Linked DNA regions of Homo sapiens. The protein of the gene in region 3 purifies or fractionates together with the protein of the main gene of each other region. This does not show direct contact. Each region holds a gene or a part of one and is shown on either strand. Other genes may lie near its edges.

Evidence for each region.
Region 1: the proteins of PCDHA3 (region 3) and CYP51A1 purify together in Homo sapiens (co-immunoprecipitation; 3 studies listed by BioGRID and IntAct, with this or other methods). This does not show direct contact.
Region 2: the proteins of PCDHA3 (region 3) and ATP13A2 purify together in Homo sapiens (affinity purification with mass spectrometry; 2 studies listed by BioGRID and IntAct, with this or other methods). This does not show direct contact.
Region 4: the proteins of PCDHA3 (region 3) and KCNT2 purify together in Homo sapiens (affinity purification with mass spectrometry; 2 studies listed by BioGRID and IntAct, with this or other methods). This does not show direct contact.

What each region holds. Positions count from the first base shown.
Region 1 is NC_000007.14:92,117,462-92,124,486, reverse strand, and holds part of CYP51A1 (lanosterol 14-alpha demethylase), read left to right. Parts: intron 1-633; coding exon 634-753; intron 754-1,171; coding exon 1,172-1,367; intron 1,368-5,871; coding exon 5,872-5,967; intron 5,968-7,025. UniProt on the Homo sapiens protein: Sterol 14alpha-demethylase that plays a critical role in the cholesterol biosynthesis pathway, being cholesterol the major sterol component in mammalian membranes as well as a precursor for bile acid and steroid hormone synthesis.
Region 2 is NC_000001.11:17,001,918-17,008,942, reverse strand, and holds part of ATP13A2 (polyamine-transporting ATPase 13A2), read left to right. Parts: intron 1-3,164; coding exon 3,165-3,259; intron 3,260-3,386; coding exon 3,387-3,569; intron 3,570-3,870; coding exon 3,871-3,929; intron 3,930-4,121; coding exon 4,122-4,251; intron 4,252-4,531; coding exon 4,532-4,611; intron 4,612-6,569; coding exon 6,570-6,647; intron 6,648-6,839; coding exon 6,840-6,909; intron 6,910-7,025. UniProt on the Homo sapiens protein: ATPase which acts as a lysosomal polyamine exporter with high affinity for spermine. Also stimulates cellular uptake of polyamines and protects against polyamine toxicity.
Region 3 is NC_000005.10:140,796,198-140,804,066, forward strand, and holds the start of PCDHA3 (protocadherin alpha-3 isoform 1 precursor), read left to right. Parts: upstream 1-4,859; 5' UTR 4,860-5,000; coding exon 5,001-7,394; coding exon of another isoform or gene 7,395-7,475; exon of another isoform or gene 7,476-7,869. Other genes in the region: PCDHA2 (protocadherin alpha-2 isoform 1 precursor), read left to right, coding at 1-1,155. UniProt on the Homo sapiens protein: Potential calcium-dependent cell-adhesion protein. May be involved in the establishment and maintenance of specific neuronal connections in the brain.
Region 4 is NC_000001.11:196,227,428-196,234,452, reverse strand, and holds part of KCNT2 (potassium channel subfamily T member 2), read left to right. Parts: intron 1-6,117; coding exon 6,118-6,229; 3' UTR 6,230-7,025. UniProt on the Homo sapiens protein: Sodium-activated and chloride-activated potassium channel. Produces rapidly activating outward rectifier K(+) currents. Contributes to regulate neuronal excitability.

The DNA.
Region 1 (7,025 bases), on a different chromosome or scaffold from region 3:
TTATGCAGCTAGCTATAACTTGAGGTTAATAGTATGTACCTCACAGGAAGATAAAAGTGAGTAATTCATGTAAAACACTTAACATGGTACCTGCTACATAGTGAACATACTATTTAAAGGTAAAGTTTAGGAGTTGAAGCTTGTTTTCTGAATCTGCTAGTATTTTCACCCCCTACAAAAAACTATTGTATTAGAAAGTGAAAAGTAGAACCAGATTCCATGGAAGAACCAGAGTGACTCTTCTGCTTTAAGACTTGATTTGGTATTAAAATTGGAATTTTATGTTAATTTAAAAGAGTATCCTACTTTCTGTTGAACTGGAAAATACTTCTAAAGGAATTTCTTGCTTGTTTTAGGCCTTTAGTTTGAACACAGGCAATGTGTTAAGAATCTGGGATATATATGTTAAATAAAGCACAGTTCTTGCCCTTAGGGACTATGGACATTTTTAACAATGTAAGATTTTCATGACTTCCAGTATGTTCCTGGTTCTGATTTTTTTGTCAATTATTTTAGAGTCATTAAAGTTGGTTAAATAAGATGCTTTATGCTCGGTCCTGGTTCTCAAAATGAATTTGATCCTAGAAGGTTATTTCTTTATTTAAGAAAATCATCTTTATCTTTTAATTACAGACGCAGGGACAGAGCTCATCGGGAAATCAAGGATATTTTCTATAAGGCAATCCAGAAACGCAGACAGTCTCAAGAAAAAATTGATGACATTCTCCAAACTTTACTAGATGCTACATACAAGTAAGAGCTATTCAGATAACATATTAAGCTGAAGCAGGAAATTACACATTAAAACACAGTTAAATAGTATTTCCAGTTAAAAAACAGTGATGCTGGCAAAATAAGTTGGTAGCTGTGATCTTTGGACTCTTTAAATTGTTGAGACATAAACTATTGGCATCCTGTGTCTTACTGTAATCCCAGTGACTGGGTATGGTAAAAGTTTGCTAATGAACTGTAATGGAGTCTTTTGTAATCAAAATCGTTTTGTGCTGGTCTGTCTCTTCCCTAAGAGAAAAAAAACTCTTGACTTGTGATAGTCAAATATAAGAGACCACTATACCTGAAAAATGTATTCATTATGACACTTTATTTAAAGGTTGAGGCATGAAATGTATCTGCCAAAATGTTAAATTTGTGTCTTTGGTTCATTCCTTAGGGATGGGCGTCCTTTGACTGATGATGAAGTAGCAGGGATGCTTATTGGATTACTCTTGGCAGGGCAGCATACATCCTCAACTACTAGTGCTTGGATGGGCTTCTTTTTGGCCAGAGACAAAACACTTCAAAAAAAATGTTATTTAGAACAGAAAACAGTCTGTGGAGAGAATCTGCCTCCTTTAACTTATGACCAGGTTTGTTGGATTTTTCAGTTTCATTGCTGCCTTATGACTTTGAGGATCTGTGGCTAATTTTTAAAAGGGACAATTTGAGATTTTCTATATACTATAGCTTAAATTGATCAGCTTCTCTATTTTTAGCAAATTCCCTATAACCTTACCTAAAATATCTTAATGTTATTGCTTCTTGCCATTAAGCTTTATCAGATATGTTTTGGGTTGATGGCTTAGAGATCCTTGGGGATGTTTCTTTGGTACTTACTTCCTCTGCTTCAAAGTCTGGCTTCTGTACATAGAGGATATTATGTGCATGTTGTGTGTCTTATGAAGTGTAGAAGCCTCTGAATTACTTAGAATTCTGTATGTCCAGAGTGGCCTGGGCATGAGCAGAGACTTCTAAAAGTAGTAGTAGTAGTAGTAATGAGGACAAGACATTTACAAATACTACATGCAACTTGCTGGGTGGAAAGGAAGAGAGGACAACTCACTGCACAACCTGACATTCCATCTTGGAAGCAAACCTTGGTGATGTCATCTTCCTGTTATCTTTTGTGCTTTTGGTCCTATATTAATATGGCACATTACACTGATTTTCAGATGTTAATTGTATTCCTGGGATAAATCCTACTTTGTCATGGTGCATAGTTCTTTCTATATGTTACTACATATAAACTTGCTGGTGTTTTGTTGAGGATTTTTGCATCTATATTCATAAAGGATATTGATCTCTAGTTTCACTGTGATGTCTTTGACTGGTTTTGATATCAGGATCATACTCATCTCATAGAATGTATTTGGAAGTATTCTTTTTTTCTTCTAATTTTTGGAAGAGTTTGTGGATGATTGGTGTTAATCCTTTTTTACATATTTGCAAAAATTCAGCAGTGAAATCATCTAGATCTGTGCTTTTCTTTCTGAGAAGACTTTACTTACTAATTCAATTTATTTGTTACAGGTTTATTCAGATATTCCATTTCTTCTTATGTCAGTTTCAGTAGTTTATATCTCTCTAGGAATTTGTCCATTTCATCTAGGTTACCTAATTTGTTGGCATACAATTGTTCATAGTATTCTCATAATCCTTTTTATTTCTGTAAGCTCAGTAGTGATGTCTCAACACTCATTCTTGTTTTTAGTAACTTAAAATAACAGCTTAACTGATATATTTACATAGCATAAATCCATCCATTTAAAATGTACACTTTGTGGTTTTTAGCATATTAAGAGTTGGGAAACCATCATCATAATTTAATTTTAGAACATTTACATCACTCCCAAAAGAGAGCTGGTACCCATTAGCAGTCATGCTTCATTCTCCCTGACTGCTGCCCCTGGCAACCATTAATCTCCTTTTGCCTCTGTGAGTTTGCCTATTCTGGATATTTCATGTAAATGGGATCATACAATTTGTAGTCTTTTGTGACTACCTTGTTTCACTTAGCATGTTATCAGGGTTCTTCCATGTTGTAGCATGTATCAGTACTTCAGTCTTTGTTATTACCAATAATATTCCATTATATGGATAGACCACATTTTGTTTATTTGTTCATCAGTTGATGGACATTTGAGTTGTTTCCACCTTTTAAACTATTATGAATAATGCCGCTCTAAACGTTTGTGTACTGATTTTATGTGGACATGTGTTTTCAATTTTGGGGGGTCATACCTAGGAGTAGAATTGCTGGGTTATAAGGTAACTTTGAAGAACTGCCAGACTGTTTTAAAAAGTGGCTGCACCACTTTCAAATCTCACTAAACAGTATATGTTGGTCCTGACTTCACCCCCTCACCAAACTTGTTACTTGATTTTTTTATTATAATAGGTGTGAAGTGATACTTTTTTTTTTTTTTTTGAGACAGAGTCTTGGTGTGATGCCCAGGCTCTAGTGCAATGGCGCGACCTTGGCTTACTGCAACCTCGGCTTCCCAGGTTCAAGCTATTCTCCTTCCTCAGCCTCCCAAGTAGCTGGGTACACACCACCACGCCTGGCTAATTTTTGTATTTTTGGTAGAGACAAGGTTGTACCATATTGGCCAGGCTGGTCTTGAACTCCTGACCTCAAGTCATCTGCCCGCCTTGGCCTCCCAAAGTGCTGGGATTACAGGTGTGAGCCACCATGCCCAGTTGGTATTTTGTTTTGATTTTGCATTTCCCTGGTGACTAGTGATGTTGAGTGTCTTATGATGTGTTCTTTGGCTTTGGTATACTTCTTTGGAGAAATGTCTGCTCACATCCTGTTCCCATATTTAAAATGAGTTGTCTTTTTATTATTGAGTTGTAAGAGTTCATCTATTTTTTTTTAATGTGCTTTTGGTGTCAGAGAAACTAATGCCTAATCAAAGTGTATGAAGATTTATTTCTGTGTATTCTTCTTAGTGTTTTGTAGTTTCATATCTTACATTTAGGTCTTTGATCCATTATGAATTAATTTATGTATATGATGTGAGGTCATCATTCTTTTGCATGTGTTTATCCAGTTGTCCCACACTGTTTGTTGAAAAGACTATTTTTTCCACGTTGAATTGTCTTTGTAAAAAAATCTATTATAGCCAGGCGCAGTGGCACGTGCCTGTATTCTCAGCTACTGAGAAGCTGAGATGGGAAGGTCGCTTGAGCTCAGGACTTGGGGTCCAGCCTGGGCAACATAGCGAAACCCTGTCTCTGAAAAAATAAATACATTTTAAAAAGCCTCTTGACCATAAATTTAAGGCTTTATTTCTGGACTCAGTTCTATTCCATTGATATGTTTAGTCTGATGCCATTACGTAGTTTTGTAATAAGTTTTGAATTCGGGAGTGTGAGTCCTCTGACTTTGTCCTTTTCAAGGCTGTTTATCTACTCCTAGTCCCTTTAGTTTCCATATGAATTTTGGGGTCAGTGTGTCAGTTTCTGCAAAGAAGCTAGCTGAGATTTTTGACAATGATTGCATTGTATCGCCATATTAATTTGGGAGCACAATTTTAGTCTTTAAATCTGTGAACATGAGATGTCTTTCTCTTATTTTAGTTCTTTAATTTCTTTCAACAATGTTTTATAGTTTTTGGTGCACAATGTTTAAACTTCTCTTGTTAAATGTATTCTTAAGTATTTTATTATTGTTATTTTTTTGATGTTATTCTTTCTTCTGCCAGTCCAAATCTGCTGTTGATCCCCTCGGGTGAATTTTTCATTTCAGTTCTCATACTTCTCAGTTCTTGAATTTCTATTTGGTTCTCTAAAAAAATAATATATTGATATTCTCCATTTTACTAGAGATATCTAGGCATATTTTGCTATAGTTCTTTGAACCTGTTTATAATAGCTGATTTAAATTCATTATCTAGTAAGTCCAATGTCTGGGCTTCTTCATGGATAGTTTCTATTAAACTGCTTGCTTTTTCTATGTACTGGCCATACTTTCCTGTTTTGGTGTGTTTTTTGTAATTTTTTTGTTGAAAACTGTACATTTAAAATAATGTGGCAACTGTGGAAATCAGATGCCCTCCTCCCTGGGTTTATTGTTGCTGGCTCTTTGTTGTTGTTGTTGTTGCTGCTGCTGTTTGTTTACTGCGTTTCCTGGATTAATTATGTCATTCCTTGTTCAGTGAGGTCACTGAAATCTCTGCTTGCTTACTTTAGTGGGCATCTAATATTTGGACAGAGATTTACTGAAGTGCTTTGAACAGCCAGTCTCCTAGCTTTTGCTGAAAGGCTCTGTATGTGTGTGTTAGGGGATGTTATTAACACTCCAACAGGCAGTTACAAGTCTGCCTTCACTACCTGTGTGTACAGGTCAGCCAGAGGTAAAAGATTACAGCCTCTTAGATCTTACCTGGGCATATGCATGGTCTTATACATATGTGTGGCCTTCAAGATTCTCTTATGTTGGAACTTTTCAAAGTCTCCTGTGGACATCTTACTCCCCAGTTTTCCCTTTTAAACTTCTTGTTCTGTCTCTTAGCACCAACTGATATCACCATCTCAGGCGCCTTCAGTGTTAAACAATTTTTGCTAAATATTTTTGGAAAATTTGCTCTGGCTCCTCTAATAGTTGTTAGGCTTCTGGCTTTCACAGCTGCTATAGTTGTCATGCTGTTGGTTTCCGGGGCTACCATGGATTTGGGGAGAGGAGGATGAAAGAAATACAACTTACACTACCACAAAGCTTACTCTTCTTACCAAGATTCAGATTTCTTTTTCTTGAATTAACTCTCCTTAGATTGTTGCAAGCCTTTGGTTAATCTTCCAGAATTTTGAAAAAGTTGACATTAAGATTGTTGCTACTGTTTTCATTTTTTGGAGGAGTGAATTTTTGTAGGTTCTTACTTCATTCTTCAGGGCAATCGCTTCTGTTACCTTGCCCTCCTTTTTCACCATGGACAGTGGTAGAGCATGATAACCCCAGCCACCCTGAACCAGTTACCTCTGTACTTTTAGCTGGAATGCAAGCTGTCTTGTACTAACTAAGAAGTTAAACTAATTTTTTGTACTGTTGAAGTATGTTATTTATAACAATCAGGAAATGCTTTCTCATTTTAGCTCAAGGATCTAAATTTACTTGATCGCTGTATAAAAGAAACATTAAGACTTAGACCTCCTATAATGATCATGATGAGAATGGCCAGAACTCCTCAGGTGAGTATCTTGGCTACATCTTCCCCTCTATACCCCCAGTTTTTATCAAAAAGAAGAAATAGGTGGGTGTGGTGGTTCACACCTGTAATCTCAACACTTTGGGAGGCTGAGGTGGGAGGATCACTTGAGGCCAGAATTTGAGACCAGCCTGGGCAACATAGTGAGACTGACCTCATCTCTACAAAATTTTTTCTAAAAATTAGCTGGCCATAATGGCACATGCCTGTGGTCCCAGCTGCTTGGGAGGCTGATGTGGGTAGATTGCTTGAGCCTGGGAGGTTGAAACTGCAGTAATCCATGATCACGCCACTGCATTGCTGCCTGGGCAACAGAGCAAGACCCTGTCTCAAAAAAAATAAAAATAAAAAAGAAAGAAAAAGAAAAGAGGAAGTAGAGTAGCATAAAAGAGATTTTTTTAAATTAAAAAAGTAGAATAATCACTTCTACCTAATCTTCAGTTTTATATACTCTAAAAACATATTTTTACCTAATTGTAGATAGTATACGTGCTAATCTGTTTTTTTTTTTTTTGAGACGGCATTTCACTCTTGTTGCCCAGGCTGGAGTGCAGTGGTGCGATCTCAGCTCACTGCAACCTCCGCCTCCCGGGTTCAAGCAATTCTTCTGCCTCAGCCTCCCAAGTAGCTGGGATTACAGGGGCATGCCACCATGCCTGGCTAATTTTTTGTATTTTAGTAGAGATGGGGTTTATCCATGTTGGTCAGGCTGATCTCGAACTCCCGACCTCAGGTGATCCACCCGCCTTGGCCTCCCAAAGTGCTGGGATTACAGGTGTAATCCCGCGCCCGGCCTACATGCTAATCTTTAATGCTAATCATGTTCTGCATTTTTCTTTAACAATTGGGGTTTTAAAAATCAAAGTACATATTTTTCTTGGTTTTAAAAATAACATTTTGTTGTAAAAAATTGTTAATATGAAGTGTACAAATTGATAGTGAAAGCCTCTCTGAAATTCCAACCCTACCTCCAAGGCATTATGGGTTTGATTTGTGTACTGTGTACTTCCAACCCAACGCTGGCTCACTGGAAATCATCTT
Region 2 (7,025 bases), on a different chromosome or scaffold from region 3:
ACCCTGGCTGGAGTGCAGTGGCGTGATCTCAGCTCACTGCAAGCTCCACCTTCTGGGTTCACACCATTCTCCCGCCTCAGCCTCCCAAGTAGCTGGGACTACAGGCGCCTGCCACCACGCCCGGCTAATTTGGTTTTTATATTTTTAGTAGAGACAGGGTTTCACCGTGTTAGCCAGGATGGTCTCAGCTAGTCTCCACCTCCTGACCTCGTGATCCGCCCCCCTTGGGCTCCCAAAGGGCTGGGATTACAGGCGTGAGCCACTGCGCACGGCCGGCCTGAGGGTTTTAAGGTACAAGGAGCAACTGTTGAATGGGCCTAGGGAGCCGTGGGACAGCCAGGGCTTCAGACAGGGTGATGTGAAAGGAGAAGAGAGCCTGGGAAATGGATAAGCAGAAGCCACGCCCCCCTGACCTGGGAGCCGGGTCCTGCCCACCTGTCCACGCAACCCCCCCAGGAACTTCAAATGCTTCTACCTCCCTGTGTGCTGGATGCTTCGGGACTATCATCCTAGAGATGAGAAATGGAAGCCCAGAGAGGCAAAGGCACTTGCTGTATGAAACACAGCATCAAAAAAGAAATTCTTAGGAACAAATGATGGGCAAAAAGACAAAACCCTGTCTCTACAAAAAAAATTAGCTGGGCATGGTGGCCTGTGCCTGTAGTCCCAGCTATTTGGAGGCTGAGGTGGGAGAATTGCTTGAGCCTGGGAGGTCAAGGCTGCAGTGAGCTATGATCGCAACACTGCACTCCAGCCTGGGTGACAGAGAGAGACTGTCTCAAAAAAAGACTTATACACGAAAACTGTAAGCTGGGCATGGTGGCTCACGCCTGTAATCCCAGCACTTTGGGAAGCCGAGGCTACAAGAGTGATAAGTAAATAAATGAATGAATGAATGAATGAAAGGACATCACAACCGAGGTTACCTGGCAGGGTTGATACGTTAGCCATGTACCCTGTGCACAGTGAGCCCTCTAGGAGTGTTGAAGCCAGAGTGCTTGGGGATGGGGCTGCTCAGAGGCTGGGGGTGCTGTGCCCACAGCAGCTGCCTGGGGCACTCTGGACTCTTTGGGTAGAAATTTTAGAAGGGCTCGCCGGGCGCTGTGGCTCACGCCTGTAATCCCAGCACTTTGGGAGGCCGAGGCGGGCGGATCACGAGGTCGGGAGATCGAGACCATCCTGGCTAACACGGTGAAACCCCATCTCTACTAAAAATACAAAAAATTAGCCGGGCGTGGTGGCGGGCGCCTGTAGTCCCAGCTACTTGGGAGGCTGAGGCAGGAGAATGGTGTGAACCCGGAAGGCAGAGCTTGCAGTGAGCCGAGATCGCGCCACTGCACTCCAGCCTGGGTGACAGAGCGAGACTCGCTCTCAAAAAAAAAAAAAAAAAAAGGAAAAATTTTAGAAGGGCTCAGATTGGGGGATGAAGGAGGGAGCCCAGAAAATCAGCAGCCTACCCCGCACCCGCCCAGCTTTTCCAGCTTAGTGAGCTTTTTCAGAGGCTCTTGTGAAACCACAGATGCCTAGCACCATCCCTACCCCGGCCTGAGGAGTTGATCCAGCCAGTCTGGGGAGGGCCCTGGCATCTGCATATGTAAAAGGTGCTCCAGGTGGTCTGGGACCGTAGATGAACCCTGACAGAGGCTGTCCAAGGGTGGGGCTGGTGAGCTCTACCCGCTCTGGAGCCCCAGAACATCCACTGGCTGCCTGCCCTGCTAAGGCCACAGCTCTACAGCACAGGAGGAAGGAGTGAAAAGAATGTCTGTGGCCGGGCGCAGTGGCTCAGCCTGTCAGCCCAGCACTCAGGGAGGCAAGGCGGGTGGATCACCTGAGGTCGGCAGTTTGAGACCACCCTGACCAGCATGGTGAAACCCCGTCTCTACTGAAAATACAAAACTTAGCTGGGCGCCTGTAATCCCAGCTACTCGGGAGGCTGAGGCAGGATAATCGCTTGAACCTGGGAGGCAGAGGTTGTAGTGAGCCGAGATCATGCCATTGTATTCCAGACTGGGCGACAGAGCAAGACTTCATCTCAAAAAAAAAAGAATATCTGCAATAGAACCACCTGATACCATTCCCCAAGTCTCAGTTTACCCATCTGTAAAGATAGGCCTGCAGGGCTGACCGTTTATTAGTCCAGACTTGACTTTGCATCTCCTCACTGCCAGACCTGGGCTGGGCACGGGCATGGAATGAAGATAAGCATCCCTGACCCCTGCCCTCAGGGTGGGGACTGGATGAGGATAGAAAAGTGAGACCCAGAGCTCCAAGGAAGCTAATGGCTGGATGCACGAGCACCATGGGGGCTTGGGGCACTGTCCAGGCCCCATTCTCCAATTCTGGGCCATACCCAGCAGAAAGACCGACACACGCAAGGAAACAAGACACTACTGGCCAAGCACGGTGGCTCATGCCTGTAATCCCAGCACTTTGGGAGGCCAAAGTGGGCAGATCACTTGAGGTCAGGAGTTCGAGACCAGCCTGGCCAACATGGTGAAACCCCATCTCTACTAAAAATACAAAAATTAGCTGGGCATGGTGGTGCATGCCTATAATCCCAGCTACTCGGGAGGCTGAGGCAGGAGAATCGCTTGAACCTGGGAGGCAAAGGTTGCAGTGAGCTGAGATCAAGTGACTGCACTCCAGCCTGGGTGACAGAGTGACACTCCGTCTCAAAAAAAAAAAAAAGATACGGTAAGTAAGAACCGACGGAAAGAAGAGCCAGATAAAGGACACAGGAAGACATGAGCTTTGGGCTCTGTCAGACCAGGTGCTTACTGTTTTGTGTTTTGTTTTGTTTAGTTTTTTGAGATGGAGTCTCACTCTGTTGCTCAGGCAGGGGTGCAGTGGTGTGATCTTGCCTCACTGCAACCTCTACCTCCCAGGTTCAAGTGATTCCCCTGCCTCAGCCTCCTGAGTAGCTGAGATTACAGGCACGCGCTGCCACGCCCGGCTAATTTTTTTTATTTTTAGTAGAGATGGGTTTCACCATGTTAGCCAGGTTGATCTCGAACTTCTAACCTCAGGTGATCCACCCGCCTCGGCCTCCCAAAGTGCTGGGATTACAGGCGTGAGCCACCGCGCCCAGGCTGATGTTTATTGTTTTTAAGGAAGCAAGAGGAGAAGGTGCCTCCCCAAATGACCTTTCTCTTTTCTGTCCACAGACAGCAGCCCTCTCGTGGGCAGCACGCCCACCGGTTATGGGACCCTGACGATAGGGACATCAATAGATCCCCTCAGCTCCTCAGTTTCATCCGTGGTAAGTGGGCAGAGTGGGGTGGGGAAAAGCTGCAGGGGGTGAATGCCCAGGCCCACCCAGACACCCCAACTTCCTACTCCAGCCCCGTTCCCACCCCGACCTGGGCCCTCTCTCGCTGCGTTCGCAGAGGCTCAGCGGCTACTGTGGCAGTCCATGGAGGGTCATCGGCTATCACGTCGTGGTCTGGATGATGGCTGGGATCCCTTTGCTGCTCTTCCGTTGGAAGCCCCTGTGGGGGGTGCGGCTGCGGCTCCGGCCCTGCAACCTGGCCCACGCCGAAACACTCGTTATCGAAATAAGAGACAAAGAGGTGAGAGTCAGGCTGAGCCTGGGGCTAGAGAAGCGCAGTGAGGGTCAGGGTCGGGGGTGGAGGATGCTTGGGTGCCAACCCGGCCACTGACTTTCCATGGGACATTAGGCAGGTCCCGCTCTTCTCTGGACCTCAGCTTTCCCATCTGAGCATTGGGCAGAAGGGACGGGTCGGGTGGTTTCTGGAGGGCTCTCCATAGCCTTGATTTCTGCCTTCTCCAGCAGGGGCCGCCTGGCTGTAGGACAGGGCCTGGGAGGGGAGGGGACTCTTCTGAGACTGAGTCCATACCTCTGTGTTCCAGGATAGTTCCTGGCAGCTCTTCACTGTCCAGGTGCAGACTGAGGCCATCGGCGAGGGCAGGTGAGGCAGCCCCATTGCCCCTTCCCAGAAGCCCCTGCTACCCTGGCCTCCCCAACTTCCCCAACCCTCGGCCCCCCCATAAAGGCTGACTCTGGCGCCTCCCATCCTAGGGAGGGAAGATGGCTCTGTGAGCACAGGGAGGTGCCAGGGCAGCTCCCAGAGCTCGAGAGTAACCCTCACCTGCTTCCCCAGCCTGGAGCCGTCCCCACAGTCCCAGGCAGAGGATGGCCGGAGCCAGGCGGCAGTTGGGGCGGTACCAGAGGGTGCCTGGAAGGATACGGCCCAGCTCCACAAGAGCGAGGAGGCGGTGAGTGTCGGACAGGTGGGTTCTGAAAAAGTCCTTGCCCCTCTCTCGGCCTCGGTTTCATGATCTGTGCAATGGGAGAGTCAGACTTCATGTTCTCCCACCACCTTTTAGTTCTGTTGTCCCAAACATCCAGGATGCTGTCTGAGCACGTTTACACTTTCAGGCCTCTCCCCACCTCTCTGTCTGGTGACACCAGTCCCTGCCCCCTACCCCCATCCCTCGGCTCCCAGCATAAGCACACTGCTTCTGGGGCCGGGGCCAGCTTCCAACCCATCCTCTCCTCTCTCCCACCCAGAAGCGGGTGCTGCGGTATTACCTCTTCCAGGGCCAGCGCTATATCTGGATCGAGACCCAGCAAGCCTTCTACCAGGTCAGGTAGGAGTCAGGGCCTGTGTGGCTCATGTCACCTCCCAGAGTGGCACTGGTTTGGGCACAGACGGTGGCATGGCATGGCCTGGGCTCCCCTCTCAGCTCTGATGCTTTTGCTGTCTGAAACCTTGGGCAGGTTACTGAGCCCCTCCAGGCCTGGGATCTCTGTCTATAAATAGGGCATGAAGATAACTTCTGCCTCCTAGGATTGTTTTGATGGTGAAATAGATAATAATTTATGTAGAGCTTGGCACCGAATGTGATCTGAGGTTGTGACACCACTGTGAATCAGACTATCAGCTCTGTACTCAGACTGTCTGCTTGGGGTTTAGTCACTGCTCTGCCACCTACAAAAGGCTTAAGAAACATGAGCTCAGGCTGGGTGCGGTGGCTCACCCCTGTAATCCCAGCACTTTGGGAAGCCAAGACAGGTGGATCACGAGGTCAGGAGTTCAAGATCAGCCTGGCCAAGATGCTGAAACCCCATCTCTACTAAAAACACAAAAATTAGCTGGGCGTGATGGCATGTGCCTGTAATCCCAGCTACTTGGGAGGCTGAGGCAGGAAAATCGCTTGAACCTGGGCGGCAGAGGTTGCAGTGAGCCAACATCGCGCCACTGCACTCTAGCCTGGATGACAGAGCATGACTCCATCTCAAAAAAAAAAAAAAAGAAAAAGAAACACAAGCTCACCACACACCTTAGTTTGTGTGTATGTGTGTGTGTGTGTGTGTGTGTGTGTGTGTGTGTGTGGTTTTTTTGGTTTGTTTGTTTGTTTTTTAAGATGGAGTTTCACTCTTGTTGCCCGGGCTGGAGTGCAATGCCGCATTCTCGGCTCACTGCACCTCCGCCTCCTGGGTTCAAGCGATTCTCCTGCCTCAGCCTCCCGAGTAGTTGGGATTACAGGTGCATGCCACCACACCCAGCTAATTTTTGCATGTTTTGTAGGGACGGGGTTTCACCATGTTGGCCAGGCTGTTCTCAAATACCTGACCTCAGGTGATCCACCCGCCTCAGCCTCCCAAAGTGCTAGAATTACAGGCATGAGCCACCGGGCCCTGCTCACACACTTTAGTTTGAATGCCGCAGAAGCAGACCCCCAGACAAGGGCTCAAGGGCAGGGAGTTTGTTTTGAAGCTGATCCCAGGCAGTGCTGGGGAAGGGATGGAAGCACGGAGGGAGGTTATGCTGGCTGCCACAGCTGTGGACACCCGGACTTCAGTCGCCTGGGGATCTCCTTGGGCCAGCGTAGACCACACACCTCTGGGCGACCTCACACAGGGAGTGAGGACAGTTACCATCAAATTCCCTGCCATTATCAGTCACGGGACACAAAGTCTTCCACGCTTTCCGGGCTCACAGGCAGGGGATTCACATGCAGCCAGAAGGCCTCAGGTAAAGACAGGTGTTTTCAGGGTCCAGCTGTCATGTGGAGGTGAGGCAGAGGGGAGATGGGGATGGCAGCAACAGCCTCTGCTGCATGATGGGGATAATAGCAAAAATCACCCGTGCATTCATCACTTAGCAAGTGGCAGGCACGTCCAAAGCAGTCCCCGAGGCTTGCCCCACTTAATCTACCCATGGCCCTATGTGGTAGGTGCTGTCACTGCCCCCATTTTGCAGATGAGAAAACTGAGGCACAGAGAGGTTAAGTGACTTGCCCAGGGTATCATCAGTGTAAATAGTGCCCTTATCACTAAATAACAGCTACTCTTTTCACTGTTCATATTATTAGCATCATCTCTCGCTGTTCTCCTTCTTCAGTGACTTGGTTTGGAACCCAGTGAGAGGAACAAAAGGGCAAAGCCAAGCCTTGGGTTCAAGGGGGCTTACTTGCTCCCAGGAGCTCAGTGTGGCAGAACGGGGATGGGGGGCCTAGAGCCCATAGTCTCCAGCCTGCACAGGGTGGGGGATGCAGACCTCAGGCCCCATGGCCCATGCGTGTCCCCTCGCACCCACCCCCAGCCTCCTGGACCATGGCCGCTCTTGTGACGACGTCCACCGCTCCCGCCATGGCCTCAGCCTCCAGGACCAAATGGTGAGGTCAGTGCTGCCCTGGACCGGGGTGCCCTGAGAACTGGGGCTCCTTGTGTTGCCCCCCAATGTGGTTGCCTTCCAGTCACCTGCCTTCTCTGGGCCTCAGTTCCCCCAGCTGAAAGTGGGGAGCTCCTTCACCCCGGGAGGGTCCAGCCACAGCTCCTCCTTCTGATGGCTTGGCCTCATCCCCTCTTCCAGGAAGGCCATTTACGGCCCCAACGTGATCAGCATACCGGTCAAGTCCTACCCCCAGCTGCTGGTGGACGAGGTAGGGCTGTCCCTGGGTCTTGCCCCAGCCCTGCCTGGCGTGCTGTGTGACCTTGGCCCAGGGCTTGCCTCCTCTGGGCCACTTTACGGTGGCAACCAGACCAGCTGTCCCCTTCT
Region 3 (7,869 bases):
GCCCTGGACCGCGAGAGCGTGTCAGCCTATGAGCTGGTGGTGACCGCACGGGACGGGGGCTCGCCTTCACTGTGGGCCACCACCAGCGTGTCCATCGAGGTGGCCGACGTGAACGACAACGCGCCGGCGTTCGCACAGCCTGAGTACACAGTATTCGTGAAGGAGAACAACCCGCCGGGCTGCCACATCTTCACGGTGTCAGCGTGGGATGCGGACGCGCAGGAGAACGCGCTGGTGTCCTACTCGCTGGTGGAGCGGCGGGTGGGCGAGCGCGCGTTGTCGAGCTACGTTTCGGTGCACGCGGAGAGCGGCAAGGTGTACGCGCTGCAGCCGCTGGACCACGAGGAAGTGGAGCTGCTGCAGTTCCAGGTGAGCGCGCGGGATGCGGGCGTGCCGCCTCTGGGCAGCAACGTGACGCTGCAGGTGTTCGTGCTGGACGAGAACGACAACGCGCCGGCACTGTTGGCGCCTAGGGCTGGCACCGCTGCTGGCGCAGTGAGTGAGCTGGTGCCGTGGTCGGTGGGTGCAGGGCACGTGGTGGCGAAGGTGCGCGCAGTGGACGCTGACTCAGGCTACAACGCGTGGCTTTCGTACGAGCTTCAGCTGGGTACTGGCAGCGCTCGCATCCCGTTCCGCGTGGGGCTATACACGGGTGAGATCAGCACGACACGTGCCCTAGACGAGGCTGACTCCCCTCGACACCGCCTACTCGTGCTGGTGAAGGACCACGGCGAACCAGCGTTGACAGCCACGGCCACCGTGTTAGTGTCGTTGGTGGAAAGTGGCCAGGCACCCAAGGCCTCGTCGCGGGCGTGGGTGGGCGCCGCGGGCTCAGAGGCTACGCTGGTGGATGTCAACGTGTACCTGATCATCGCCATCTGCGCGGTATCCAGCCTGTTGGTGCTCACGGTGCTGCTGTACACTGCGCTGCGGTGCTCGGTGCCACCCACCGAGGGTGCGCGCGCGCCAGGAAAGCCCACGCTGGTGTGCTCCAGCGCCGTGGGGAGCTGGTCTTACTCGCAGCAGAGGCGGCAGAGGGTGTGCTCTGGGGAGGACCCCCCCAAGACGGACCTCATGGCCTTCAGCCCTAGCTTATCTCAAGGTCCAGACTCCGCAGAAGAGAAACAGCTCTCAGAATCAGAATACGTAGGAAAGGTGAGTCTTTTACTTTTTCTTGCCAATTCTAAAATTGTTCTTTTTAAAAAATTCTATATGATTTCTACTAGTTATTTAGATTCATAGTTCTTCATTTATTTTATATCATCCTACCGTGCGATTTTGAATATGAATTAGAGATCAATTTATTGCATTTACTGAACAATTTATTTAAACAATCTACATAACTGTTTTCTTATTTTTACATTTTGGCACTTCCATCATTAAGTCATAAGTAATAGACCATGAAACACTGAAAAACACCTCAGCAAAATTTGTAAATTAAACATTTCCCATAAATATTTTCTCTCTTAAAAATTGAAAATCACAATCGGAAGAAATTAAAGAATTTGATTATATAATACGTATTTTCAACTGACACTGTCTATCCAATCTGTCGGATAGTGTTTGGAATAACCTATATCCTGGACATTTCTTAGATTGTTCTTTGGATCAACAATGCCCTTGTCTATGCAATAGTTAATAAGCTACATTTTTTTTTTGTTTGTTTGTTTTTGTTGAGACAGTCTTGCTCTGTCACCTAGGCTGGAGTGCAGTGGTGTGATCTCAGCTCACTATAACCTCTGCCACCCGGGTTCAAGTGATTGTCTTGCCTCAGCCTCCTTAGTAACTGGGATTACAGGCGCCCACCACCACGCCCGGCTATTTTCTTTTTTAAATTTTTTATTTTTAGTAGAGACGGGGTTGGTCTCAACTAAATGTTGGCCAGGCTGGTCTCAAACTCCTGGCCTCAAGTGATCCACCCTCCTAGGCCTCCCAAAGTGCTGGGATTACAGGAGTGAGCCACTGCACCTGGTCTTTTTATTTGTATTTGAAAGCAGCCTGAGTGGATATTTTAACACCAGAATTTCCAAAAGTATGTAGCACAGGTTGTTACAACAAAATGACAGCACTTAGGAATAACTGCTAATCTTAAGTATGTTTTTTATAAGTAAAATAACCCATTATTTGGTATAAAGATTTCACACTGATAACATTTTTGAGTTATCAGGCAAAAATAGAGAGTATTGAGAAAAGAGACCCTCTCAATTTTGTTTAATTTGAAAATATTAACATTTAAAAATCACACTGGGGTTTTTCAGGTGGTGGGACTTTTTCTTCATTTAAGTGGAGACTACCCAGTCTTTATGTTAATGGTTGATAAATCATCCTTTCAGTATCATTATCATTAGGCCAATGTGTGCAGGCCTCCCACTGCAGAGATTGACTACTTTTTTCTGGCATCTAATTCTATGCGTGGGAATACATTTTCCATTAATGTGAGCTCACTCAATTTTACCTGGAAGCATCCATATTCCTAATGAAATTGGAATTTTTCCAAAAGATGAGGCCTGGTCTTGGATGACTACATTTTCACTTGAAACATTTATTTTGGGTAATTATAACACTGAACTCGACAAGTAAATGTTACACTTGGAAAGAACTTTTTTAGCTTTTCCAACCAAAGGCAGATGTATTGCAATAAAATAACTGTCTTAAACGGTCCTCTACTATTTAGTTCTTAGTTATTTGCTGTTTATTCTAAATATATGTGCATATTGATAAATCATAGAAATAACTTCCACTAGTGATCTTACCTTTAGCCATTTCATAGTTAGGTCAGAATATCCATTTCCAAGTAATACTTGACCACTATGTTTCTACCATAGGTAAATGATAAGCTTCTAAAATTATATTCACATATATCCAAATCTCCAGGAGTCACAATCTGTTGCTCTATAAGTTTTTTCAAAACATTCTTATTTACATTTTTTCTTGGTTGTCTAAGTGACATCTAGGTGGTAGTAGAAATTATTCACTGATACTTTATCTACAAAATGGCTCAATCTTCTAAACTCATAGTTCCTTTAATATTACCTTTATCTCTTAATAATCAGTATGGAGTCTACTCTGCTATAAATTCTCATGTGACATTCCATTTTGCAATTAGTATAACTCTTAAAGGTACTGAAAAGTGCAGTATTACAATAAGTTGTCAAAGGCATCTCATTACTATGAAGTCCATGAAGTTTAAAAATTTTAAATTTATCTCTTATTTTCAAACTAGCTACCATCTTTAAAAATTCAGCAAAGTGGTAACTGGAATATTAATAGCTATAATTATTTCTTAGGTCCATGCTTTTCAGAAATAATGCTTAAATGTTTACTTACTTCTTCATAATATAGCACAATATAATCATTTAGAAATTATGTAAGTTTGATATTAACAAATATCATTAACTTACATTTTTATTTATCTTGCTTGAAAAAGTTAATTCAAAATATTAATTTATTTATTCATGAAAACAACAATTGATAATTTATCCTATTCTAAATATGAATGATAAAATCTGAGTAAGTTGCAGTCCTGGCTTCCATTTCATGAATACACAGGAAACAAAAGCTGAAATGAAAACTTTTCCCCTAAATATTTAAATCACATGTTTGATTTCATTTTTAAATGGTCTGGGTATAAGCAAAAATTTGTACATTATTTTATTTCTCTAAATTTGACCTCTTTCCATAAATTTTCTTTGCCCCACTTCCAAATGCGGCGAGAATTCATGCTTCTCATTGAATTCACAGATATCTTTAGAATGTTTTATTGCTTAGTGTTAAATATGTTGAGTAAATACTGGCTTATGTTCCTAGGTTACTTTTCTCCCTTCACTGTTTAGTTAAATAATCAATTCTTTCAAGTAACAACTTTTAAAAAAACTGGAATCTAGAAATTCATCAGGAGTGGAGATCATCAAAAACGTAATTACTTTATATTGTTAACATTTTAGTATATACAGGTAAATTCAAATACATAAAGAGTGTGGAAAAATTAAACCTAATATATTCTTAATTGATGTGATGTGAGTGTAACAAATATACAAATCACATTCCCACAATAGGAAACAAATTTCCTGTTTGAATTTCTCTGTAAAGGACCGACTTCTGAAATCTTTATGTAAGTTACAGTCAAGACAGTTGATGAGGCTATAGTTCTTGAAAAAGGGGCATGGGAGGGAATTACAGACATTCTACAAATTTAAAAAACCATAAATGTACATATTTTAAGAAATTAACAGTTGCTGTAATAACATAAAAGTAGATATATGTATGTTTTAATATATACAGCACACACACACTTTTAAATACTTCAACATCTCAATGTTTTGATGATCATAAATCTGAAAGGATCTGATTTTTCTATAAAATGTAACTTGGGTGGTAAAGAGGTTAATGGTAAGTTGTCTTGAATCAGATTGAAATCCCATCGTACCAAGAGATAATATCGTTTTACTTAACCTCTATGTGTTTATAAAAAGCGAATAATATTAAAACTTATTTCAGAGGATTGTGATAATTTAACGGGATAATTCCATTAAGACAAATAGAAAAGTGGCTGTCACATGGGAAATATTTCCAATAGATGTCCACTGTTAAAACAGGAATCACAATATTTTAGTGTATGTCATGAATTAGCACAATTGATAGTGAATTAGTATAAAAGTTCTAAGGAAATATTTAGATAAAATATAAGGACTTTGAGGAGTGACCGAAGGATATTACAATTGAAACTAGAAATTTTGGGAAAGTTCAAACGACATACAAGGAAAAGAAGATACGTTTACATATTTAATACTTACACGTTTAGCCACATGATGTCGCTGTCCACCACAAGGTCTTTCTCCACAAAAGAAATAACAGCGTGCATTACGTATTCAGATACTGCTTTGCTTCATCCTCTCTAAAATTTAACACCGAGGAGTTTAAGAAATGAAGATAAGGAACTCGAATTATTTTTAAACTTTGGATCAATGTAAAGGCAATCTAATATTTGGAAAATACTTGCAATGTTGTTCTCCTGGCGAGAAGATCCTGGAGCCCAGTGCCTGCTGCTTTCTCTTCTGCTCCTCGCAGCCTCGGAGGTGGGGAGCGGCCAGCTCCACTACTCCGTCTCTGAGGAGGCCAAGCATGGCACCTTCGTGGGCCGCATCGCGCAGGACCTGGGGCTGGAGCTGGCGGAGCTGGTGCCGCGCCTGTTCCGGGTGGCGTCCAAAAGACACGGGGACCTTCTGGAGGTAAATCTGCAGAATGGCATTTTGTTTGTGAATTCTCGGATAGACCGCGAGGAACTGTGCGGGCGGAGCGCGGAGTGCAGCATCCACCTGGAGGTGATCGTGGACAGGCCGCTGCAGGTTTTCCATGTGGAGGTGGAAGTGAAGGACATTAATGACAACGCGCCAGTTTTTCCAATGGCTGTAAAGAATCTGTTTATTTCCGAATCCCGACAGCCTGGCTCTCGGTTTTCGCTAGAGGGCGCATCAGATGCAGATATCGGAACAAATTCGTTGTTGACTTACAGTCTTGATTCCACTGAATATTTTACCTTGGACGTTAAAAGAAATGATGAGGAAATTAAATCCCTTGGACTCGTGTTGAAAAAAAATTTAAATCGAGAGGACACTCCTAAGCATTATTTACTAATAACAGCAATTGATGGTGGGAAACCAGAGCTCACTGGCACGACTCAACTAAAGATCACTGTTTTAGATGTAAACGACAACGCCCCAGCGTTTGAGAGGACGATCTATAAAGTCAGATTACTCGAAAATGCACCAAATGGTACCCTAGTGGTGACCGTTAACGCCACCGATTTGGATGAAGGAGTAAATAAGGATATCGCGTATTCTTTCAATACGGACATGTCAGCAGATATTCTGTCAAAATTCCATTTAGATCCAGTCAATGGACAAATCAGTGTAAAGGGTAACATAGATTTCGAGGAAAGTAAGTCATATGAAATCCAGGTAGAAGCCACGGATAAAGGAAATCCCCCAATGTCAGATCACTGCACAGTTCTACTCGAAATTGTGGACATCAATGATAATGTACCTGAGTTAGTTATTCAATCACTATCTTTACCTGTATTAGAAGACTCTCCACTTAGCACAGTCATCGCTCTGATCAGCGTGTCCGACCGCGACTCAGGAGTCAATGGACAGGTCACCTGCTCGCTGACGCCCCACGTCCCCTTCAAGCTGGTGTCCACCTTCAAGAATTACTACTCATTGGTGCTGGACAGCCCTCTGGACCGCGAGAGCGTGTCGGCCTATGAGCTGGTGGTGACTGCTCGGGACGGGGGCTCGCCTTCACTGTGGGCCACGGCCAGCGTGTCCGTGGAGGTGGCCGACGTGAACGACAATGCGCCGGCATTCTCGCAGTCCGAGTACACGGTGTTCGTGAAGGAGAACAACCCGCCGGGCTGCCACATCTTCACGGTGTCTGCGCGGGACGCGGACGCGCAGGAGAACGCCCTGGTGTCCTACTCGCTGGTGGAACGGCGGGTGGGGGAGCGCGCGCTGTCGAGCTACGTGTCGGTACACGCGGAGAGCGGCAAGGTGTACGCGCTGCAGCCGCTGGACCACGAGGAGCTAGAGCTGCTGCAGTTCCAGGTGAGTGCGCGCGATGCGGGCGTGCCGCCTCTGGGCAGCAACGTGACGCTGCAGGTGTTCGTGCTGGACGAGAACGACAACGCGCCGGCACTGCTGATGCCTCGGGTGGGTGGCATCGGTGGCGCAGTGAGCGAGCTGGTGCCGCGGTCAGTGGGTGCGGGCCACGTGGTAGCGAAGGTGCGCGCAGTGGATGCAGACTCAGGCTACAACGCGTGGCTTTCGTATGAGCTGCAGCCTGGGACCGGCGGTGCGCGCATCCCGTTTCGCGTGGGGCTGTACACGGGAGAGATCAGCACGACCCGTGCCCTGGACGAGGTGGACGCCCCGCGCCATCGCCTACTGGTGCTGGTGAAGGACCACGGTGAACCCTCATTGACCGCCACGGCCACTGTGCTGGTGTCGCTGGTGGAGAGTGGCCAGGCACCCAAGGCCTCGTCCCAGGCGTCCGCTGGCGCCACGGGCCCGGAAGCTGCACTGGTGGATGTCAACGTGTACTTGATCGTCGCCATCTGCGCGGTGTCCAGTCTGTTGGTGCTCACACTGCTGCTATATACTGCTCTGCGGTGCTCCGCGCCGCCAACCGAAGGCGACTGTGGGCCGGGCAAGCCCACGCTGGTGTGCTCCAGCGCGGTGGGGAGCTGGTCATACTCGCAGCAGAGGCAGCAGAGGGTGTGCTCTGGAGAGGGGTTGCCCAAGACCGACCTCATGGCTTTTAGCCCTAGCCTTCCTCCTTGTCCAATTAGCCGGGATAGAGAGGAGAAACAGGATGTGGACGTTGATCTCTCAGCCAAAGTGAGTAATTTTTATTTATTCTTTCCAAAATGTCTTTGTTTTTCATTCCTCAATGTTTCCACTCCTCTGGAAATACATTAATAGTTAAGTATGAATTATGTGATTCATAATTAGACTTTTCCAGTTTTGTGGTTTTGTGGTTAAAACGGTAAGATTTTTGTTGCTAATTTTTGAACCAAATCAGCAGTAAGTTATGATATCCACACTTGTAATTTTGTTTTGTTATTAGGTGCAGTAGTAGAATTATTTTATTGCTAAATGCCTGGGTATAAGACAAATATTTTTTCTTAGATGAATTGCATTATTTAGAGAATCTGACTTCGACTTGTTTTATACTTATCCCTATACAATGCTTCTTCAATATCTTTTGCCACTTTTCATTTGGACTTCCTACTACCTGTTAGTACAAATGTTACTTGCTCATTTTATGAGTTCACCTAATGCTTATAACTCCCTATTGATTATGCTTTTCCAC
Region 4 (7,025 bases), on a different chromosome or scaffold from region 3:
ATTTATGAAGGCAGAAAATGAGACTTGATTATTGATTTGGGAATTGAAAAAGAAGTTTAACACAGCTTTAGGGTTTCAAACTGTGTGATTACAAAAATAAAAAAAAAATGTTGTTTCATCAAAACAAGTCAGAATGGGGAGACAATTTTCCAGGCAGGAAAGAGGGGCTGTTGGGTAGTAAAAAAAAAAGAGATGATATGTGGGTCCAGGTATATATGTATTTTTAATAAATGTTGACTTTCTAATTAATTAAGTTTATTGATATATAATAGTTGTGCATTTTATGAGGTACATGTGATATTTTGATACATGCATAAAATATGTAATGATCAATCAGGGTAATTGAGGTAGCCATTACCCCAAACATTTATAATTTCTTTGTGTTAGGAATATCCCAAATGTTCTTTTCCAGCTATTTTGAAATATACAATGAAGTCTTGTTAAGCATAGTTGCCCTACTGTGCTTTGAAGCACTGGAATTTATTTCTTCTGTGTAACTGTATTTTGGTTACTAATAAACCAGTTTCTCTCCATCTTCCCCTCCTCATCACCCTTCCCAGCCTCTGGTAACATTCTGCCTACTATCTCCATGAGATCAATTATTTTAGCTCACACATTTGAATGAAAACATGATATTTGTTTTTCTGTGGCTTATTTCTCTTAACACTGACTATGTTGTTTTTCTGTGGCTTATTTCATTTAACACTGACTATGTTGCTGCAAATGACAGAATTTCATCTTTTTTATGGATGAATGGTATTCTACTTTGCATATATACCACAAATTTTCTTCATCCATCCATTCAAATATGTTATTTAAAGTATAAAGAGGAAATGTCTAGAAAGCATTTAGATACACAGTATTGGAACTTTGAAGATAAGCTAGTTTTCTGTAGAAAAAATATTTTTTATCTTCCAGCTGAAAAAGGCTAAATAGGGAATGTTTTTTCCAAAAATATAAATACAGAAGAAACAGTAGAATAATTAGTGTTGTACTACTGACGAGTGTTTTGTTTTAGGGCAGAAACAGGAAGCATTTCAAAAACTTATTAGGAAAATAAAACAGCAGGAGTAAATCTGACCCCAAATAAGTGTGAAAAGATTCCTAAAATGCACCTAAGATAGAACTATCAAGTATAATATTGCTTTATTTTGCCATCTGATAATACTGGTTAGAATACAGGAGCATTGGGGAAACAGATGAATAACAATTTAAGCTAGTAGAATTCTTAAGTCACTGTCAAAAATTGTATCTGATGGTGATATTGAATTTATAAAGGACTTCAATTAGAGGAAAACATCTTATTTATGATGCACTTGGATTTTAATTACTCATCCTGGACCCTTCACATAGTATATTATGATAATAAAATAAAGCTGTTCTTTTTTCATGGCATCCACATTTATACATGTCTTTTTTCTTTTAAGTCCATAAGTATAGATAATTTTTATTAAATATCTAATCTACCCATATTAATTCCAGCCTTCTTATACCTTTTTTCAAATAAATATAATTGTGTTAATTATATAGAATTTAAAAAATTATGCTTACCTTATTTGTATTTTATAATAAATTATGTTTCTTAAGCTTAATACAATCATTTCCCATAATTATTTTTGACAGAATGTTCAAAGAAAATGTTGTCACCCTTTTGAGACTAAGAACATGTCATTTTGTCAAATATTTATGTTCTTGATTTCAAATGATGTTTAATCTTTTTACTTATGAATAAAATATGTATGTCACAATGTGGACAGGTAAAGTAGACATATTTTTAGAGAATTTTCTGTCTTTTAGATACTCTTATTTTTTATTAGTTTTAAGCTAAAACATCAACTTGACTGCTATTAAAAAAATAAAAAAGCTTTTCTTACACCATTGCAGTGATCTGTATTTGTGGCATTGAGATAATTAAATTTCAGTGGAACCAGAACAATGATAAATTATCATTTGAAAGATGCCTACCATGACATGTAATATATAAAAACACAGTTTAAGAAATTTGCTTTATTGGACTCATAGGTTTTGTAGTGACAATAATAGGAAAAGGAACTTTTGCTACTGCATCAATGAATGCAGAGAATAATGGATTATACTGTTATCTTTTATGTTTTTCTAAAAATTCACTTTCGGAAGTTTGTTTTAAATGAAGAAGCAACATTAATTTGATGCGAACAATAATAAATCACTAGATGATATGGTATTAAAAAGTGTAATGTGCACTATTAGTTTTCTTCATCAATCCACAATGCTATTGATATTTAAAGTAACTATAAAGCAGTGTGCATAGATGACAAAATCCAGTTAATAGGTCCAAGAACACTAGTCTCAACTTTTATTTGGTCAAAGAAAATAGACTCAGTGTTTTTGATTGCCTTTTCTCATTTTCATTAAGGAGTATATTTTGTGAATTTTTCCCTTCAGTCTTTAAGACAAAAGTGCAAACTTTATTAGCGTTCTCACTTTTTAATTAGTTTTCCTGTTCATTTTATATACTGCCTCTTAAAAATATTATAGAAGTATTAAATACTTCTTTCATTTGGACTTGGAACATGACTTTCTTAGAATGCTGTGTTGCATATATTTATTTTCTTCTCTCCTTTTCAAACCCTTAGTGGCTTCCTACTGCCTTTAAAACACAAATTGAAACTACTTATTCTGAAACTTAAGGTCATTCATTACCTGTTTCCTACCTTTGTTTTTGACTTTACCTACCATGATTTACTAGTTTTCTAAAGTCAAATCATTTCTAAGCACATCAGAAACATCCATCCTCTGTGGTCTCCATTGACAACATTTGGGATCACCTCCTGTTCCTTCCTCCTAAATCTTCTCTGAAGCCTGGAGAGGCAAGTTCAACCCAACCCCACAATAAAGCAGTTCCTAATTCTCTCTGTTGTTCTTTTTCACTTTGTATGATGTTTGGAATTTCTTTTTTTTTCTTCCATTATATCTGCTTCATAAATTTTACTTTAATCTTCTGCCGGACAGGAGTCATGTTTTGTGATTTTGTTTTAATTCTAAGGTGTTAGCACAGTTTCCTACAGGTGCTCAAGAAGCAGTCACTAAAGATACTCAGGCATACCTCAGAGATTTTGCAGGATTGGTTCCAGACTACCACAATAGAGTGAATATTGCAATCAAGCCAGTCACTTGAATTTTTTGGTTTCCCGGTGCATACAAAATTTATGTTTGCATTATACTTTAGTCTACTAAGTGTGCAAAAGCAAAGCATTATGTCTAAAAATTTACTTAATTAAAAAACAGTTTATTGCTAAAAAAAAAATGCTAGCAGTCATCTGAGCCTTCAGGGAGTCATAATCTTTTTTTGCCGGTAGAGAGTCTTGCCTCAATGTTGATGGCTGCTGACAGATTGGGGTAGTGGTTACTGAAGGTTGGAGGGGTGTGGCAATTTCTTAAAATCAGACAACAATGAAGTAGTATGCTGCATTGATTGACTCTTTCTTTCATGCAATATTTATCTGTAGCATGTAATACCCTTTGATAGCATTTTACCCGAAGTGGAACTTCTTTTGAAACTGGAGTCAATCCTTTCAAACCCTGCTGCTACTTTGTCAACTAAGTTTATGTAATAATATAAATTCTTTACAGTCATTTCAACAATGTTCATAGCATCTTCACCAGGAGTAGATTTCATCTCAAGAAACCAATTTATTTGATGATAAATAAGAAGCAACTCCTCATTCATTCAAATTTTGGTCAGAGATTGCAGCAGTTGAGTCACATCTTTGGGCTCCACTTCTAATTCTAGTTATCTTGCTATTTCTACCACAACTGCAGTTACTTCCTCCATTGAAGTCTTGATCCCCTCAAAGTCATCGATAAGGGTTGGAGTCAACTTCTTCCAAACTTCTGTTAATGTTGATATTTCTACCTCATCCCACGAATCATGAACATTGAAATTACTCTTTGATCCATGGGCTGCAGAATAGATGTTGTGTTAGCAAGAATGATACAATACTAATCTCATTGTACATCTCCATCAGAGCTCTTGGGTGACCAGGTGCCTTATCAAGGGGCAGTGATATTTTGAAGTCTTTTTTTTAAGTGTTAAGTCTCAACAATGGGCCTAACATTTTCAGTAAACTATGCTTTAAACAGATTTGCTGCCAGTCAGGCTTTGTTTTTCCATTTCTGGAGCATAGGCAGAGCAGATTTAGCAGAATTCTTAAGTGTCCTAGGATTTCCAGAATGGTAAATGAGTATTGGCTTCAACTGAAAGTCACCGAATGCATTAGCCCCTACCAAGAGAGTCAGCTTGTCACTGAAGCTTTGAAACTAGGCTTTGTCTTCTCCTCTCTAGCTACTTAAGTACTAGATGGCAACTTTTTCCAATAGAAGGCTGTCTTCCAAATTGAAAATCTGTTGTTTAATTTAGCCACCTTCATCAATAATCTTATTAATAGTTTGATTTTTTTGATAACTTGCTGTAGCTTCTGCATTAGCACTATCTACTTCATCTTGCACGTTTATGTTATGGAGGGGACTCATTTCCTTAAGCTTCATGAGCTAACCTCTGCTAGCTTCCTCTTCCATAGCTAACCTCTTCCATAGCTTCTTCACTTCCCTCACCTTTCAGAGAATTGAAAAGAGGTAGAGCATTGCTCTGGATTTGGCTTTGGATTAAGGGAATGTTGTAGCTGGTTTGATCTTTTTTCCAGACCACTCATACTTTTGCCATCTCAGCAATAAGGCTGTTTCCTTTTCTTATCAGTTGTGTATTCACTGGAGTAGCACTTTTAATTTCCTTAGGAACTTTTCCTTTGCATTCACAACTTGGCTAACTGGCACAAAAGACCTAACTTCCAACTTATGTAAGCTTTTGATGTTCCTTCCTCACTAAGCATAATCATTTCTAGCTTTTGATTTAAAGTGAGAGACATGATACTCTTCCTTTCACTTAAACAATTACAAGTCATTTTTGGGTTATTAACTAATCTAACTTTAATGTTTTTGTGTCTTGGGGAATACAGATGGTGGAGGAGAGGGAAAAGAGTCGAGGGAATAGCCAGTTGGTGGAGTGATCAGAACACACATATTTTATTGGTTAAAATTGCCTTCTTATATGGGTGCGGATAGTGGTATCCCAAAACAATTACAATAGGAACATCAAAAATTACTGATCACAGATCACTATAACAGATATAATTACAATGGAAAAAGTTCAAGTTACCAAATCTGACACAGAGACCCTAAGTGAGCACATGCTGGAAAAAATGTCTCCAACGGACTTGCTTGATTCAGGGTTGCCACAAACCTTCCATTTATAAATAATTCAATATTGGCAAAGTGCAATCAAGTCAAAAGCAATAAAAAAGGCATGCCTGTACATCATTTGACAGTCTAAAGTAAGACAACTCTCTGAAAACAAATTCTCACATTAATGAAATGTTTGAGTTTGGCAGATAAACATTTTTCTATTTACTAGCAGAATTAATTAAGAATTATTCTCTATACTTTAGTATTATCACTTACTATACCATAAGCTGAATTTTAGATAAATAATTTTCCTGCTAATTTAAACGTTATGCATTATATTCACTATAACATTTGTTAAACTGTTGATTTTATAGATTCATAAAATATTTAAATTGAAAAGACTATAGAAATTGCTTACATCAATCTCCTAATTTTTTAAGTGATAAAAATAAGACAAAGAACAGTTAAGTAATGGAAGAATGATGGCTAAAATGTAGGTCTCCTTCATAGAAAAATGGCCAAAGTAAGGGATAATAAGTCAACAGCATACTTAATCATAAAACTTTGATGAGACGAAGGTGCTGAAATTGATTATAATTGAAAAATAATGGTGACTGACAGTCAACATGCACAGGGAAAAAGATGAAGAAGAAAAATAATAGTGCTTGATTCATCAGCATTCATCATCATAATCTTCTCAGGTATGAAAATGATAATATTAACCATGCCAAATTGTAAAGGCCAACCAAACAGTGAGTTCTACCACCAATGTTGTATACAGACAGTTTAGATAATCTGAAAACTGAACAAATAAATTAGAAATATGAAGTGTCAGTGTGAATTAATGTTGCCTGTATTTACTATTGCAAAGTTATTTATTTTGTTTTCTTTTATTAGATACTTAATTCGACCAGATCCACTGGCCTACCTTCCAAACAGTGAGCCCAGTCGAAGAAACAGCATCTGCAATGTCACTGGTCAAGATTCTCGGGAGGAAACTCAACTTTGATAAAAATAAAATGAGAAACTTTTTTCCTACAAAGACCTTGCTTGAAACCACAAAAGTTTTGCTGGCACGAAAGAAACTAGATGGAAATATATGTAATTCTCTCATATTTAAAAACGTAATCTCTTCTCTTAGAAGTATAGATCATTTTGAAACTTAATGTACTACTTACTGGTACTCTCCCTATTAATATTTGAAGGACCTCAATGGAATAAATTTGAAAAGCTAAATTAAAATACAAAAATTTAAATCTGACATTTAATTGTTTTATAATAATCCAAACTCTATGAAAGCAATTTTAAAAATTATTAAGGTTTTATGAAGTTGACAAAATCTAACTATATTTGGTGCATCACAATGGACACAGAATGCTGCTGCTCCTCTTAAAAATTAAATGTGTCATATTATATTCTTTAAACTTACTGTTTTACAAAATTGAGCTCATCGTAAATGTCTAGTCTTCTCACATAGAGATTAACCAACAAACTTGTGTGGCTGACTTTTGTGTAAGAATCATAGTTTGCTTTAGAATACAAATCTTTAAGTCATTTTAACTTTTTTTTCTGCCTTACGATATAAAAATATTTATCTTAGAATTTGAGATGTTCATAGCATGTTTTATTACATTGAAGAAACTAAAACATAAATGAAAAGAAACACTAGGTTCCTGCACTTTTTGGTAACTTTATGTCTAGCAAATATTTTATGCCAAGAAAAGCATACTATAAAGCAAATATCTATTATTCTCCTAAACGAATGCCTAGCATAGAGAAAATACTTAATACACATTTGTTGACTT